Linked DNA regions of Homo sapiens. The protein of the gene in region 3 interacts with the protein of the main gene of each other region in a pairwise test. Each region holds a gene or a part of one and is shown on either strand. Other genes may lie near its edges.

Region 1 (3,500 bases), on a different chromosome or scaffold from region 3:
AAAAAAAAAAAAACTATGTTGAAAATCACATGAAATTCCAGTTTCAGGGCTCATAACAAAGTCGTCTCAGCCACACCACGCTCACTTGCATGCGTATTGCCCGGGACTGCTTCTGGCCAAGTGGAGTCCTCGGGACAGAGACTCTGTGGCCCACAAAGCTAAACACACACATCCCCTGGCCTCTTACAGGAGCGGCTGGCCAGCCTGGTGCAGATCTGTGTTCTCTAACTCACTATCACGTGGGGTGGCAACACATCACGAGTGCCTGAAACAGATGCTACCAATCCCTTACCTTGAAGAAGAAGCCGACCCCCGGCTTCTGGTCGCCTTCGCTGACAAGGTCCGCCGAGCCATCGAGGCTTACCAGCTCCCCATCCTCGTCGGGGGCCTTCAGGTCGGAGAGGTCCACTTCAATGAGGCTGGCCCTGCTCCTCAGAGGCTCCTCCACGGGGACGCTCTCTTTTCCCGAGACATCTGAGGAGCTGGACCCCACCTCCTTCACACTCGCATCCAGAACTTCTTTGAGGCTCATCTGCTCCGAAAGAATGTTGGCATCTTTGGAAGAGGACAGAGTAAGTGTCCGCTGATTGCTTTCATCATGGAGCCTGTAACTGTCGAAGAGACACTTCCCATGTGGGTCACCACTGGGCTCCAGGGCACTGTCCAGGCCAGGGTCCGTGGGCGTCCGAGGGTGGCTGCTGGCAGGGAAGGGTCTCAAGTGCGGGAGCGTCTCTACACTGGGCGTTGGGGTTTTACTTCGGGAGGAGCCCTGTGGCCTGTCTTTTGGGACCTTCAGCTCCGCCGGCCTTCCGGAACGGGAATTCCGGCCTTGACCCAGCCGGGGGGCTTTGCGGTGGCCAGCCACGCCCGTGGGAGAGAGTGGCTCCACGAAGTGGACTGGTGCCTTCACTTTGTGGTCCTGCGAGTTATTCTTAGAGCCTGGCACTGGGACTGTGGGGGACTTCATCAGAAGCTGCTCTTGCTGCTGAGAGATTTTCAGGATGGCCTGCTGCAGCGTACTGATGGTTTCGTTAAGCTTCTCGATGGAAAGGTCACATTCATTCACGTCGACAACCTCCCCAACAGTGTCCTCCAGGAGGGCAGCGGAGATCACCTTATTTCTCTCCAGCTCGTGCAGAGCCACAGGGTCTTTTGCTTTATGTTGCTGAGCAAAGGCCAGGCTCTCTTTGTCCACATCCTGTGGCTCGTGAAGGAGCTCCTCTCTCTGCTCCTCCTTCACGAGAAAGTCTTCGGTTTTGGAAACAGCGTCCCCACAGTCCTCCCCGTTGTGCTGAGAGTACTCCTTTGCAAAGTGCTCCGGCCTGAGGGGTGGGGCAGCCTCGGCCTTGCCCTTCTTCACCACATGCAGGAATGCAGCCTTGCCGAGCTTCAGGCGCTGCCTTGCCGACAGCGCCTCCATCTTCTTCTTCTGGGCCTCGATGGCCCTGCGCTTCTCCTCCAGCTGCATGTGCAGCTGTACCAGCTCAGATGCCAGGAGGCTGGCGGGATCCTTGCCATGCTGGCTCGGACTCTGCTCCCTCTTCTGCCTCCACGTCGTCAGAGGGGCTGGGCAGCTCTCAGACGCATCTGGCGTGGTCTTCTGGGAGCTGCTGGTGCTGGACTTGGTCTCACAGCTGTTGAGTCTCTGGAGCTTCCTCTCCGCAAAGCTGGTCATCTTCACGCTCCCACTCGCCATGGAGACACTGCTCATCTGAGAGGCTGTGCTCAGGCAGGGGCTCGAGCGGCCGCTGGCGTCATCTTTGTCTTCATGTTCCTTCACCTTCATGTCCTCCTGCAGTTTGGCCGACTCTTCCTCCCCAATGTATCTGCTGAAAACCACAGGATGGGCCTCACCCATGAAATCGTGCTCGGCTTCCTCTATGTCCACCACATCCGAGTCAGAATCCTGCCTGAGGAGAGTCCACGGCTCTGAATCGTGGGAGTTGGGGCTTTTTGAACAACTAACATATAACCTTCCCTCGGTGTCTTCATCGGCCCTGCCTACATGAAGGAAGAAGCCATCCGTGGATGGTCCCTGGGGGAACGGATCGAATCCGCCAAGGGCCAGAGGCCCACCACAGACCTCTCCTGCGGTTTCCACTGACAGTGGTCCTGTCTCGGTGGGGTCGATGCCCATGGGGAATTCTGAGCATGGAATCGGGGTAAAAGTCCTATTCAAGTCGCGACTGCCAGTCATTTTCCTTCGTACCAAAGGCTGGGGGCCCTCGCTGGGCCTCCTAGACACGATGCTCCTCGGTCTCCCTTCCCCCCGTTCATCCTCCTTGGTGATCACCTGCTTCTCTTTCGCTGGCTTAAGAACTGCTGGCATCAAAGGCTCCAAGAAAAAACTGTCAGGCTTACTTTCCGAGGTGTCCAGCTGTCCTTGGGGAGACCGGGCATTTGCTGTAAGGCCTAAGGCCCGGGGTGAGGCCCTGGGGAACTCCGGGTCAGCCTGCTGGGGAACCACGTCTGCTCTAACAATAGCCACAAGCTCCTCTTCCTCATCCTCAATACTGACATTGCTCAGGAGGCTCTTCCCGTGGCTCTTCGTGGCCGTGGGGTGTGGCTGGTTCTGTGGGGTCAGATTAACAATGTTGGATGCCAAACTGTCTTTGCTGATGGAGCGGGCCAAGCTGATGCTGTCGCCAGAGCTGGGATCCACTTCACAACTCGCAGCGTGATGTAGAGCAAAAGGTGTTGGCTGGGACGCAGGCCTGAAACACAGGGAAGGCCCACTGGGTGCGCTGCGGTATACACCAAAGACCCCCAACATGGACCAGGGGGTGAGAATGCCGGCCACACAAAGAGAATACGCCTCTCATATGCAGGAGATTTAAACTCACTCTTCCACAGAGCAGAAGAAAATCAGAGATAATTTCAGCTTTGTGATTCTCAAACACTCTAGTCCCAGGACCTCTTGATACCCTTCAAAATTACTGAGGACCTCAAAGAGCTTTTGTTTCTATTTATCAGTATTAATCTCTATTTATCATCCTACAAATTAAAGCTCAGACATTTTCTAAACACTGATTAAAATTACAGTAATTAGCCCACTCCATGACAAATGACTATATTCGCCAGAACGGAAGAAGTTCCTAGTGTTAAGGGCAGGCACTATTTGACACCTGTATAGTTCTGGGATCTGGCTGGACCCTCATACCTGACTCCACCTGCTGCCACACCACATGGTATGCAGCCTCTGAAAAATCCCACGGCACACTCGCAAGAGTGAGGCTGCAGAGAGGCAGTAACTTCCTAGTGTTGTTATAAAAATAATTCTGATTTCAGGCACTCCCTATAAAAGGGTCTCGGTGATCCTCAGGGGGTTGGGGTGACATCTTAAGAACTGCTGTTTAGTATAAAAAACATTCCAAACAGAAACACTGCTGAAACACAGACTCACCTGGTTTTTTTTTCTGGCCAGGCTATTGCTGCTCCTCGAGGCTGACCATCAACTCGGGTCAAAGAATTCGATCGATGTCGCTGATCTGCAGTACAGA
Region 2 (3,500 bases), on a different chromosome or scaffold from region 3:
GTAAACACTAGCCCTCTCACCCAGAGAGTAAAGTATCAGTTTCACCATCTTTGATGACAAGTTCAGCAAATAGACACTATTGACCTTATTCACATCATTTGTGGCTGAGAGCTCTCCTGCATATCTAGCCTCCAATGCTGGGAGAATGCCGTTGTCATGGCTGTGAAGACAGCCAGGAGGCGCCCGATTGGTCTATTTACTTTGCTGGCAGAGCTCACAGGCAAACAAGCACCCAGCAGCTTCTGAAGTCAGGCCAAATTCTGCAGGGATTTGAGGCTGGGTTACTGAGCAGCCTCTTTACTTCTGCTGTCCTGTTTGCCTGAACTGTGGGCTCCTTGGGACAGGCACTCAGCCTTGTCCACCACTGTATGGCCAGCCCTGGGCACAGTGCTGGGCCCAGCCTGATGCCCACCAAGTGCTTGCCAAGTGAGGAGGTGCTGAGGCCAGGAGGAAGGACACTTTATCTTCCTCTTTCTCAAGGGTGATTGGGATGGATGTCACTGAAGCAGGAGGGATGAGAATGGGAATGGGAGGTGAATCCTGGCTCTAGCTGTCTCTACTCCTACACGCCCAGGGGACCCTGGCAAGTGGGTTTCTGGTAACCTCAGTTTCCTTGTTGATGGGAAGGTCTGTCCTGCCTGGCTGGGGGGAGGGTGAGAAGGTGCATGGCAGGTGTTGAGCTCAATATCTGCACTGAGAGTCAGTGCTGAACTGCTGAGGAGGGTGGTCAGGGGTGACTGTGGAGCCTTCCTGCTGTTTCAGGGCTCAAAGCTGTGCGCTGTCCTTATGGGTCCCTCAGGGGACTCCCGAGGCCAAAGTAATAACTCATGGGGATGGGGCAGAGAACTAGCAGGTGCTGAGACCTGCGATGTGTCACATACCCCCACTGACTCTCACCTGGCTGGCCCTCAGGCTGGGTAGGACACAGCCTATAAAGGTGAAGAGAATGAGACTTGGAGAAGTGATGGCACTGGCGAGGGCTACAGCTCACAGTGACAGACCTGGGATGCCTGCCCTGGTCTCTGTGATCTCCAAGCCCTTCTGCTCTGGACACATGATCAGGCTCTGTCTCCAGGGCCCCTCACCTGCCAGATCCTCACCCCCCTTTTAAACAGTTAATTTTACCCTTAAAAAAAGTACAGTTGCCTTTCAAATTATGGAAGTAGTGCAGACTTGTTGAGAAAAACACAGAAGGGTATGCAGGATCTTATGACACAGCCTCCTTAACCATGATCCTGCTCCTCAGAGTTAGCCCCTGAGTCCTTCGGTATAGACTCTTCCGGTGCCTTCTATGAAACATAAGGATTTTAAACAATGGGATCCCCAACTTGTCAGGAACTTATTTAATATATATATAAACCAGCCTTATCCTTTTCAATGACTCCAGAGTATTCCACCATATGGCTCTACCACAGTTTACATAACCAGTTCCCCACAGATGGGCACGTTCCTATTTTTGCTCTTATGAGCAGTCCTGCAGTAAATAAGCTGGCATGGGAATCTCTGAGCATGCTGAGCAAGTACTTACACAGGACACGTTCCTAGAAGTGGGAATGCAGGGTAAAAGAAATGCACACTTGGCCAGGTGTGGTGGCTCACACCTGAAATCCCAACACTTTGGGAGGCCGAGGCGGGAGGATCACCTGAGGAGTTCGTGACTAGCCTGGCCAACACAGTGGAACCCCATCTCTACTAAAAATACAAAAATTAGCCAGGCACGGTGGTGCACGCCTGTAATTCCAGCTACTTGGGAGGCTGAGGCAGGAGAATCGCTTGAGCCCGGGAGGCAGAGGTTTCAGTGAGTTGAGATCGTGTGCCACTGCACTCCAGCCTGAGCGACAGAGCCAGGCTCTGTCTCAAAAAAAAAAAAAAAGAATCACACATTAAGAAGTGTTGGCCCACACTACCCTTTCACCCCTGGTGGTGGGAGGACCAAGTCCTCCCCACCCATCTGACAGGTGAAATGGCATTGCAACTTAAGGTGCTTTCTTTGAGTTGGTTAGACTGAAAAACCTGTCGGGATTTCAGGCCATTCGTATTTGTCTTACTGTTACCTGTTCTGATTTTCCTGCTAGGTTGCTTGTCTTGTAGAATTTTTGGGAACTTTTCATACACTACAGCTTTAACACAAAGTGATTATGTCAAGTAACCCTCTCTCCTGTTTCAATGACTGAACAAGGAAGTCTATCTCCACTTCATCCACTTATTGATAAACAGAATCTATTAAACACCACCGCCTACATAGTACCATGTGACTGGTGAGGCAACCTCTGCCCTGGACGTTTCCCGCTGTGCCCTAAATCCCACAACGAAGCTGCCTGAGAGGTCACCGCCATGCCTGCCTCACCCTACCCCTGCTCCCAGGCACCTCACCTGGCCTGCACGGGAACAGTGATGCTATTTGGGAAACAGCCCTGGTCCCAAGAAGGGGTGTGGAGGAAACTCCAGGACAGAACACTGCTCTGCAGGGGACTTCCATCTGCCTGGGCTCAGATGTGGGGATGAGGTGGGCCACGGCAGGCGGCATAGCCACAAACCCTGTGGCCGTCTCTTCTCCTTGCATTCTCCCCTGAATCCTCATGACATCCCACACTCATTCTTAGTCCCCACTGTCTTCCCTTTGCTTTCTAACCCTCCCTACCTTCTTCAGATTTAGAACAGTATGTGCTACTGGCACTGAGTGAATTATCACTCCTGGTTAGCTGTTCCTCTCTTCTGAGACAGGCTGTGTCTCCAAAGCCATCCCAGTTACCAGCCAATAGACAGGAAGTTGCTTACTCGGGGAATGGCGGACACCTTCACTTTGGCCCTAGAATCACATTTGGCCTACTTTGGTCACTCCCAGGTGATCCTGGGTGAGATGAGAAGGACTGAATGATGGCTCTATACTCCCTCCACCCAACTCTATACACTGAAGAGGAAGAACTTCTGCAAAATTCTGGGACTTGCTTTGCAGGTTCAAGGTGGTGTGGCTCCAGGATTCAGACCCATCTTAGCTGCAGACCCAAACAGGAGCCTGCGCTACCTCCACAGCCTTCACCCTGCCTTAGCTTGGACACTAACTGCCTCCTCCTGCTCCATGCAGTCACAGGGGTCCAGAGCCCATTTCTGCGGGGTGGGCTTGCTCCTCTGCCTGAGTCACCGCCTGTGGCTAGGATCTCCTGCAGCTGAAAGCAGCAGCGAGTGCAGGGTGTCTACTCCCAGCAGTATATCCTTATGACCCTGAGTTCCCTCTAAGGGGAGGAGCGAGGATGAGCTGCATGTGCAGGCCTGCAGCACTTGGGTAAGGAGAGAAGTGGTGGGAGAAAGCAAGAAGCAGAGGGATCAGGCCAGGCGCGGTGGCTCCTGCTTGTAATCCCAGCACTTTGGGAGGCTGAGGTGGGTGGATTGCTTGAGCCCAGCGGTTCGAGACCAGCCTGGCCAACATGGTGAAACCCCATCTTTACTAAAAAAATACAAAAATTAGCCGGGCGTGGTGGTGCACGCCTATAATCCCAGCT
Region 3 (4,151 bases):
ATCTAAAAGGTGATAAATTTGGAAATAGATATGTAAGCATATTATATATTATCTAGAGTTACTGTCATAATTCTTAGTAATAATAGAGAGAAATATGAAAGAACTAAGCAAGAATTATTTAGAAGAGTTTGTCTCCGGGTATAAATAGGACAGATCTTGGTTCTAATCACACCACTGATTTGTCAACCACAGGCAAGTATTAATAAAAACTCATAAAAAGTAAATGTTCTAAAACTGCTCTAAAAAATAAAGTCTTAAAAAAAGGTAAATGTTTTGGAATAAACAGACAATTACAATAACAATGACATTAACCCCGAAGTCTGCCATCTGCCTTTGACACCATACATCTATCTCTTTCTTAACAAACAATAATTTTCAGTTATATGGACAGAAAATAAACTAAGAAGGGTAAATAAAAGGTTTTAAACTAAAACTGCTACAGGTGAGGGTGGCAGAGAAACAAATAATTTCTTCCCCTTTTCTAAGCTATTGTATACGTATGCTGCCTTATGACACCAGAGAACAAACATTCAACATCACCATCAAACAGTGACATGGATCATAAACCATTAAATTCCCCTTAATGTATTCATATTCCACAACTATGCAGGAAAAAAAAAGATTATGTGCCTCATGAATAGTCTGAAGTGAGGAGTTGACACAGCGAATGTGTATGGCTTCTTTGTCAATGACCCTTCATCAAAATGTTAACGATGTTCAAGTAAACACTCACTTCTTTATGAAGAAGAATTTGAATCATCTCTGTGACTTCAGTTTTAATGTAAAATATCTACGGTATATTCCTAACACTGATAAAAATATAATGCCTCCTATCCATCTGAATGTAGAGACTTCTATTTCTTCATGGCCTGTAGATCTGAGGCACCAAGAGAAAAGAAAGGATACATTTCCCTTTATCATAACAACTATCTTGATAATATATTTTTACCATCTGGGTAAAATCAAAGCCAGTGGATGTTTGCAAAGAAAACTGATAGTTTCATCCTAGTTGTTATTTGACCTGACTGGCTCCGTTGCCTTAAATGTGCACTGATCATATTTTTAAATACTTTCACTCACAACACAGCTATCCCTAATTACTTAATTCCACTTCCACATCTCAACTGCTGCTTGTAAATATGACAGTGCGCTTACAGACACTCATGCCTATCTTATGCCACTTTTAAACACCATGCTATCTTTACATCTCAGTGTCACACGGGGGGAGACAGCGGAAGGAGTTACAGGGCACATGGGCATGCAAAGCAGAGCTGGAAAAAAAACACTTCTGTCTTTTTAAAAAAAGTCATGTGGTTTTGATATAATATGAATATTTTATATAAAAAAGAAATTACACTCCTGAAATAACCTCCAGCCAAATGGAGTAAAATCATCATGTACCACAACAACAGTCTTGCATGGCTTCCACCAGAACTGTGCCAGGTAAAGTGTGTCTGAGGACTGGGGACCCTTCACCAACTGTTGGGTACGAGTCTGTGAAGAAATTAGTACTTAGAAACTTTTCACAGCAATTTGACAGAGTTTCTAGTTTACACTTGTTTAAATAATTTTTAAAATTGGGCTTATATTTTCTAAGTCTTTTTAAAATTTCATTTGCCTAGTAATTTGTCTGTACTATAAAAGTGTTCGTTTGAAGGACTGGAAATTAAAAAAATAAAAACTGATCCCTCACCACACATAACTTGGAAAGCACTGAAGTCAATTATTGAAGTGGATGTGTGAATGAAAAGAAAATGGGAATGCAGCCTTCAATGTATCTAAAATGGATGGCTAAAAAATGAGATTTCAAAGGCAAAACTTAAGCTTTATGATAAATAGGAACTCAGCAAACTTGTTTAACATTAACATTTTTATTATTCCTAAAATATTTACTTTAAATATGGATAGCTAACTAGATATAAAATCTACTTTTTCTATTAAAAAAACACAAGTAAGAAAAACCTCTGTAACTTAAATATTACCTTAAATTAATATAATCGTTACCCATCTTTCCTTCTGGAAATTCACACCTAAATTATGATAAAATGAAATATATTTACCATATGTAAAACACTCACACTATCATTCCTAAAAGAATCTTACAGAACATGAAAAACTAAAGGCCAGGTATGGTGGCTCATGCCTGTAATCCCAGCACTTTGGGAGGACGAGGCAGGTGGATCATGAGGTCAAGAGATCGAGACCATCCTGGCCAACATGGTGAAACCCCGTCTCTACTAAAAATACAAAAAGTAGCTGGGCATGGTGGCACGTGCCTGTAGTCCCAGCTACTCAGGAGGCTGAGGCAGGAGAATCGCTTGAACTGGGGAGGTGACGGTTGCAGTGAGCAGAGACTGCGCCACTGCACACCGGCCTGCCAACAGAGCAAGACAAAAAAACAAAAGACATGAAAAACTAAAATGTCAAATAGTTCTTTAAAATTAGGCTTTTGAATATTCAAAAGGAAAACCAGGTACATTTTACAAGATATTTCTTACAAGTTGTTAAATTTTACAACTACATTATTCAGGAAGACAGAAATGATTTATTAATGAACATTTTTCCATTTGGATATATTTTGGATGCTTAATGTAATTCAAATCTTTGAAACACAAAATGGAATCCAGTCATTTTTGTTATAAGCTTAGACATTATTGACTTTTTTTTTTAAGTAAGCGAAAAGAGTCAAAATGAACCAGGGAAGAAGGGTGGAAAGCAACTCGCTCCAGGATTTAGGGGAAACGCATCAGATTTGCCAAGCATGTGGAACCTTCTAATACCTTCTCAGCCAGGGCCTCAGTCCCTGAATGGGCTGTGGGAGGCATCCACACACAGGTAGATGTTAAGTTCTGGGAGCTTGAAGGATCACTTAGCTAAGACTGAGGTAGGCTGGGCATAAATCACTTATTGGATACTGTTTTAAGGTTAAGTGAACCTGCCTACGTAGACAGGACCATCTCTTCACTGGACATGGGCAATTTCCCTGAGCTAATGTGCCAGCGCTTTGGTTTCCTGGGATGAGGCAGATGGCCAAAGAGAGAAAGCTCTCCTAAAACTGTGTTCTTGTGTGAAATGCCACAGAAACACTCAATCTAAGAGAATCACAGTGAAACCCTGTTATAGCCAGTGTGAAGGAACAAAGACAAACACCAGGCTTCTCCAAGAGGAGGAGGAAATATATACATATTTCTTACACACATATATATAATATACATACACACACACACACACACAGGGGTGTGAAGGGTTTTAGAAAGATACTTTCCTATACAATCATGCACTGTGTAATCATGTTTTGCTTGAGGGACCAATATAAGACAGTGGTCCCCCAAGATTATGATACTGTACTTTTGCTGTACCTCTTCTATGTTTAGATCTGTTCATATACATTCAATACCATTGTGGTTAGGATTGCCTACAGTATTTAGTACAGTAGCATGCTGTGCAGGTTAGTAGCCTAGGAGCAATAGGCTACACCATATAGCCTAACGGTGTAGCAGGCTCATGGTTTGTGTAAGTACACTCCAGGGTGTTCACACAAGGAAGAAATTACTTACTGATGCATTTCTCAGAATGTATTTCCATCATTAAGTGATACCTGTCTGTACTTAAAACCATTTTTAAAAATAACTGCCTGGAATGATTTCCAGCAACTCTTTCATTGGCTGTTTTCAGACCTAGACATGAGATATCTTCTACTTACCTGAACTTGAACAAAGTAGCAGCCAAAAACCCTGCCTTAGTTCAGTTTAGTACAGTTCAGTTCAGTTGTTTGGGGCGGGGGGAGGAGGATGTTTAATTTTTACAGCTCATCATTATCAAGGCCATTTTAAAACCTTTCAGGACCCCAAGAACTGGTAAAAGATTATGTTGACTTGTCCCAGATACCTCAAAATAAAACTTTTATGGCAGTTTTCTCCGATTAGCCATCTGCCTCATTTTCAAAATCACACAAAGCTTACCAGCATAATGAAATCAAATGAAAATATCTTCTTTCTAGATTTTCCTGACTAGTTTATCTTCATTCCTTCACACTGGCTATAACAGGGTTTTACTGCGATTCTCTTTGGATTGAGTGTTCCTGTGGCATTCCAGGCAGGAATATCGTTTTCATGGGAACTTTCTTTGATTGGACAGCTGCCTCATTCCGG
Region 4 (3,500 bases), on a different chromosome or scaffold from region 3:
TTGTCCCTGAGCCTGTGTCTTCACCAGCTCTACCCCACCCTAGGCTTGGGGTGAGGAAAGAAAGAAGGCAAGTAACACCTTGAAAACATACTGAGGCCAAGCATCTGCACACATCATCTCAGAGAAGGCTACCATGTGCCCCATGGGGTCTGTCCTATTATCAGTCCCATTTTACAGATGAGGAAGAGAAAGTCAGACAAAGTGATGCACCCACGGTCACACACCTGGTAATCAGCTGAATGGAGACAGAAGTGCGAGGTGTGAGCCACATGTTATTTTCTTAGGATTCACGGGGGACATGCATTCCTTGTCTCTATAAAAGCCAGTGTTTACTGAATACAGATTGTAGGTGAGCACCTCTCCCTGCCAGGCACTATGCAACCATCTGTGTCCATCTGAAAATGACCTTGTGAGGCAGGCATTCTCTTACCGTCCAATTTCAGAGATTAGGAAACTGAGGTTTGTAGAGATAACACAACTGGCCCAAATGTCACACATCCAGCTAGGCAGTGACATGTCCAGGATTTGGAGTCAGATCTGATGGACTCTAGAGCCACTGCTCATACACACTTGTCTGGGTGGAGGTTAGGAGGAGCCGGTAGCAGTGGAGCTCAGTGGTTCAATTGGCTCTGACAAGGGACACCCAGAAAAGGTCAAAAACAAGGTCACAACTGCCGTGGGGGGTTGGGGAGATGGCAACTGCTTTGAGGATGGGAGAGGGGCAGAGCCTGTAGGAGCCCCAGGTGAGGGTACAAGCTAGGGTCCTGGCTAGAGTGATCTGCTTGGTCTACCCAGAGCCCCCATACCAGGTAACACCAGCCCTGCCCTAGTGTGAGGATACTGAGGCTGACCCAAAAAGGGCCAGTGGAGCCCTGTCTTGTTGGTCCCCAGGGTTCTAACCTGTGCTCTGGGGCCAGTGTGCCTGGAACTAATCACCTCTCTAGAGCCCCTAGTGCTGTGGAAGGCGGGGCAGGATCCCCTCCCTCCCTCCTAGGCCCTGTGAGCCCAGAGGGAGGCCAGCATCAGAGGCAGGAAATGAAGAAGAATTTGCGATCTAATTGAGCTGGCGGGGGATTAGGCGGCAGAATGCAATTACAGGGGCTGGAGCGGGGCCAGGGCACTGACACCCCAAGATGTGGCCTGGCCCAGGTGACTTGGCCCAGTCAGTCTCTGGCCAGAGACACTAGACTTGGGGTTGGGAGTATGGGTACAGGGAAAGGTTGGGACCAGACTGCTTCTCAACATACAGAGGACTGTGGGGTTCCAGCTCCATGTAATACCCAGAAGCAAGAAGTTTTCCTGGGAATCCTCCCCCAGGGAACAAGCCTATGGACTCTCATCTGGGGATCTGGCAGCCAGACACACATGCTCTCACAGGCTCCGTTCATACATGTGCAAGCATGTGCTCACACTCCCAGGTAAGCCCCACATATCCACATTCACCTGCATAGGGGCAGGCTTCCCAGCATGGAGACACACAGGCTGGCCCTTTGCTGCCACTGGCTCCACCAAATGGTGGGTTGTGGGGGCACAACCCCCTCCCTCCAGAAAACCCACCCATGACCTTAAAATCCTTTTATTCCCGTAATCACATGCTACCATTGCCGTGGATACACGCTGTCACCCCAGCCCCAGCCTGTCTCCCTCTGCGGCTTCCAAAACTCCCAGCAGGCAGGCAGACGGGGAGGCTGCCCAGTTACTGCTGGGGAGGGAAGGGGTGTAGGGGTTGCAGGGGGAAGGACTGGGTGTGAGAGGTTCAGTTCTACACACACACACTCCATGCTACACACACATTCAGGGCCTCAAACAACCAGAGGGGGAGATTCAGTAAGACGGAGATACAGAAAGAGAAAGGAAAACATAGCCAGCCGCCACCACAGACAGAGAGAAACCACTGTCCATACAGCACAGACAGGCCCACTCCCACATTCACAATTCAGACACACTCTACTCAGAGTCAGATCCCCCAGATTTATAAGCATATACAAAGCACACAGATACACACAAATCACAAATCCAAACTCTCCAAAATTCCAAGCACACACAGCTCACAGAATATATTCATTCCCAGATTCACAGGGACATAGCCAATCTTCAGAAATACAATCTCAGATTCACAAACACACATGTACACATACACTACAGATCCACACACTTCTAGATCAGGACAAATATACATGCCCTGATTCATAAATCCATGTATGTTCAGACTCCCACACCCTGAGACAGACATTCAACACAGAGATTCACAGATATAGATACACTACTTAGAGACACACATGTCCTGAGTCATAAGCACACATCACCCAGATTCCCACATCCCAGAACAACAGACTAGTGCCCACACAGCCTCATCTCTGTCAGCTGACACTGCCTCTGGCTTTAGGGGGCAGGTGGAGGGTTGGAGATTCCTGGGTCTTTAGGGGGCAGTCCTTTCTCATTGCTCGAATCCAGGAAGGGTGGGCTCAGCGTTGGGGGGAGGTGAGGGGGAAGTAAGAGAAAGCAGAAAAAAACTTTAGTGGGATATTCTTGTTGGGCAGTAGCGCGTGAGTAACGGGGGAGGCTTTTTGTGGTCTGGTGAGTTCCAGCTATGAGTGAGAGTTTAACTATTAATACACTTAATCAAGGACACTTCACACACACATACACAGCCACACACACACACACACACACACACGCGCGCGCGCGCGCGCGCGCGCGCCGGCGGCTAGGATGGGACCAGGTGGTGGGGGTAAGAGAGGGAGAGCCCCAGAAAAAAGAAAAGAGGGAAAGCCCCAATCAGGGCCCCAGGGGGCGGGGAAACGGGGCGGAGCTTCTATCCTGGGCCTGCCTCCAGAGCTGGAGCAGTGATTCATTTGTGTACCACCAGAAGGGTGGGGTTTGATACACAGTAGGTGCTCAATACAAACATATTGGGCCAACAAATGAATAACATATAAAGAGTGGGCAATAGTAACGTAATAACAATGTGTGAACCCCCCCATTCTTGTTCAATTAGGGCATGCCCCAGAGCATCATGCTTGTTAATTCGGACTAAATGATCAAGCCACCAGACAGGGGCTCTAGGAACCCAGGCTTGGGTCTGGCTCACCCGTATTCCCTCATTCCTCCACCCTATCCTGCAACCTGGAAAGTCAGCCCAGCCCACATCCCTCTCTCCCTCCTAGCAAGACTCCCTCCACTCCATCCTCCCATAAACAACAAGGTGCAGTCAGTCCTGAAGAAGGCAGGGTATTTCATTCCCCTGGACTTGTTTCTTCACCCAGATACAAGCCTGCCCCCACACTCCTATGGGTCTCAGTTTCACATGTGCCAAATGAGTAGGAGGCAGGCAGAGCAGGAAAGGGGCAGCAAGAGTTGAGGGTCACAGTGGGAACCCATGGAACATGGGCCTGTGCTGGCCGGTGCCCTGGATGCAGAATCCTCCCCTCCCCTTCCCCCACCCACCCCAGCCCAGCCCAGCCCAGCCTAGCCCAGCTGGGTGGACATTCCAGGCCTCA

Evidence for each region. The genes of interacting proteins can lie anywhere in the genome.
Region 1: the proteins of SMAD9 (region 3) and CAMSAP1 interact in a two-hybrid assay, tested with the Homo sapiens proteins (one large-scale study listed by BioGRID and IntAct).
Region 2: the proteins of SMAD9 (region 3) and PPARD interact in a two-hybrid assay, tested with the Homo sapiens proteins (one large-scale study listed by BioGRID and IntAct).
Region 4: the proteins of SMAD9 (region 3) and CXXC5 interact in a two-hybrid assay, tested with the Homo sapiens proteins (one large-scale study listed by BioGRID and IntAct).

The regions. Positions count from the first base shown.
Region 1 is NC_000009.12:135,820,547-135,824,046, forward strand, and holds part of CAMSAP1 (calmodulin-regulated spectrin-associated protein 1), read right to left. Parts: intron 3,489-3,500; coding exon 3,404-3,488; intron 2,715-3,403; coding exon 293-2,714; intron 1-292. UniProt on the Homo sapiens protein: Key microtubule-organizing protein that specifically binds the minus-end of non-centrosomal microtubules and regulates their dynamics and organization. Specifically recognizes growing microtubule minus-ends and stabilizes microtubules.
Region 2 is NC_000006.12:35,412,058-35,415,557, reverse strand, and holds part of PPARD (peroxisome proliferator-activated receptor delta), read right to left. Parts: intron 1-3,500. UniProt on the Homo sapiens protein: Ligand-activated transcription factor key mediator of energy metabolism in adipose tissues. Receptor that binds peroxisome proliferators such as hypolipidemic drugs and fatty acids.
Region 3 is NC_000013.11:36,874,961-36,879,111, forward strand, and holds part of SMAD9 (mothers against decapentaplegic homolog 9), read right to left. Parts: intron 1-4,151. UniProt on the Homo sapiens protein: Transcriptional modulator activated by BMP (bone morphogenetic proteins) type 1 receptor kinase. SMAD9 is a receptor-regulated SMAD (R-SMAD).
Region 4 is NC_000005.10:139,651,349-139,654,848, reverse strand, and holds part of CXXC5 (CXXC-type zinc finger protein 5), read right to left. Parts: intron 1-3,500. UniProt on the Homo sapiens protein: May indirectly participate in activation of the NF-kappa-B and MAPK pathways. Acts as a mediator of BMP4-mediated modulation of canonical Wnt signaling activity in neural stem cells.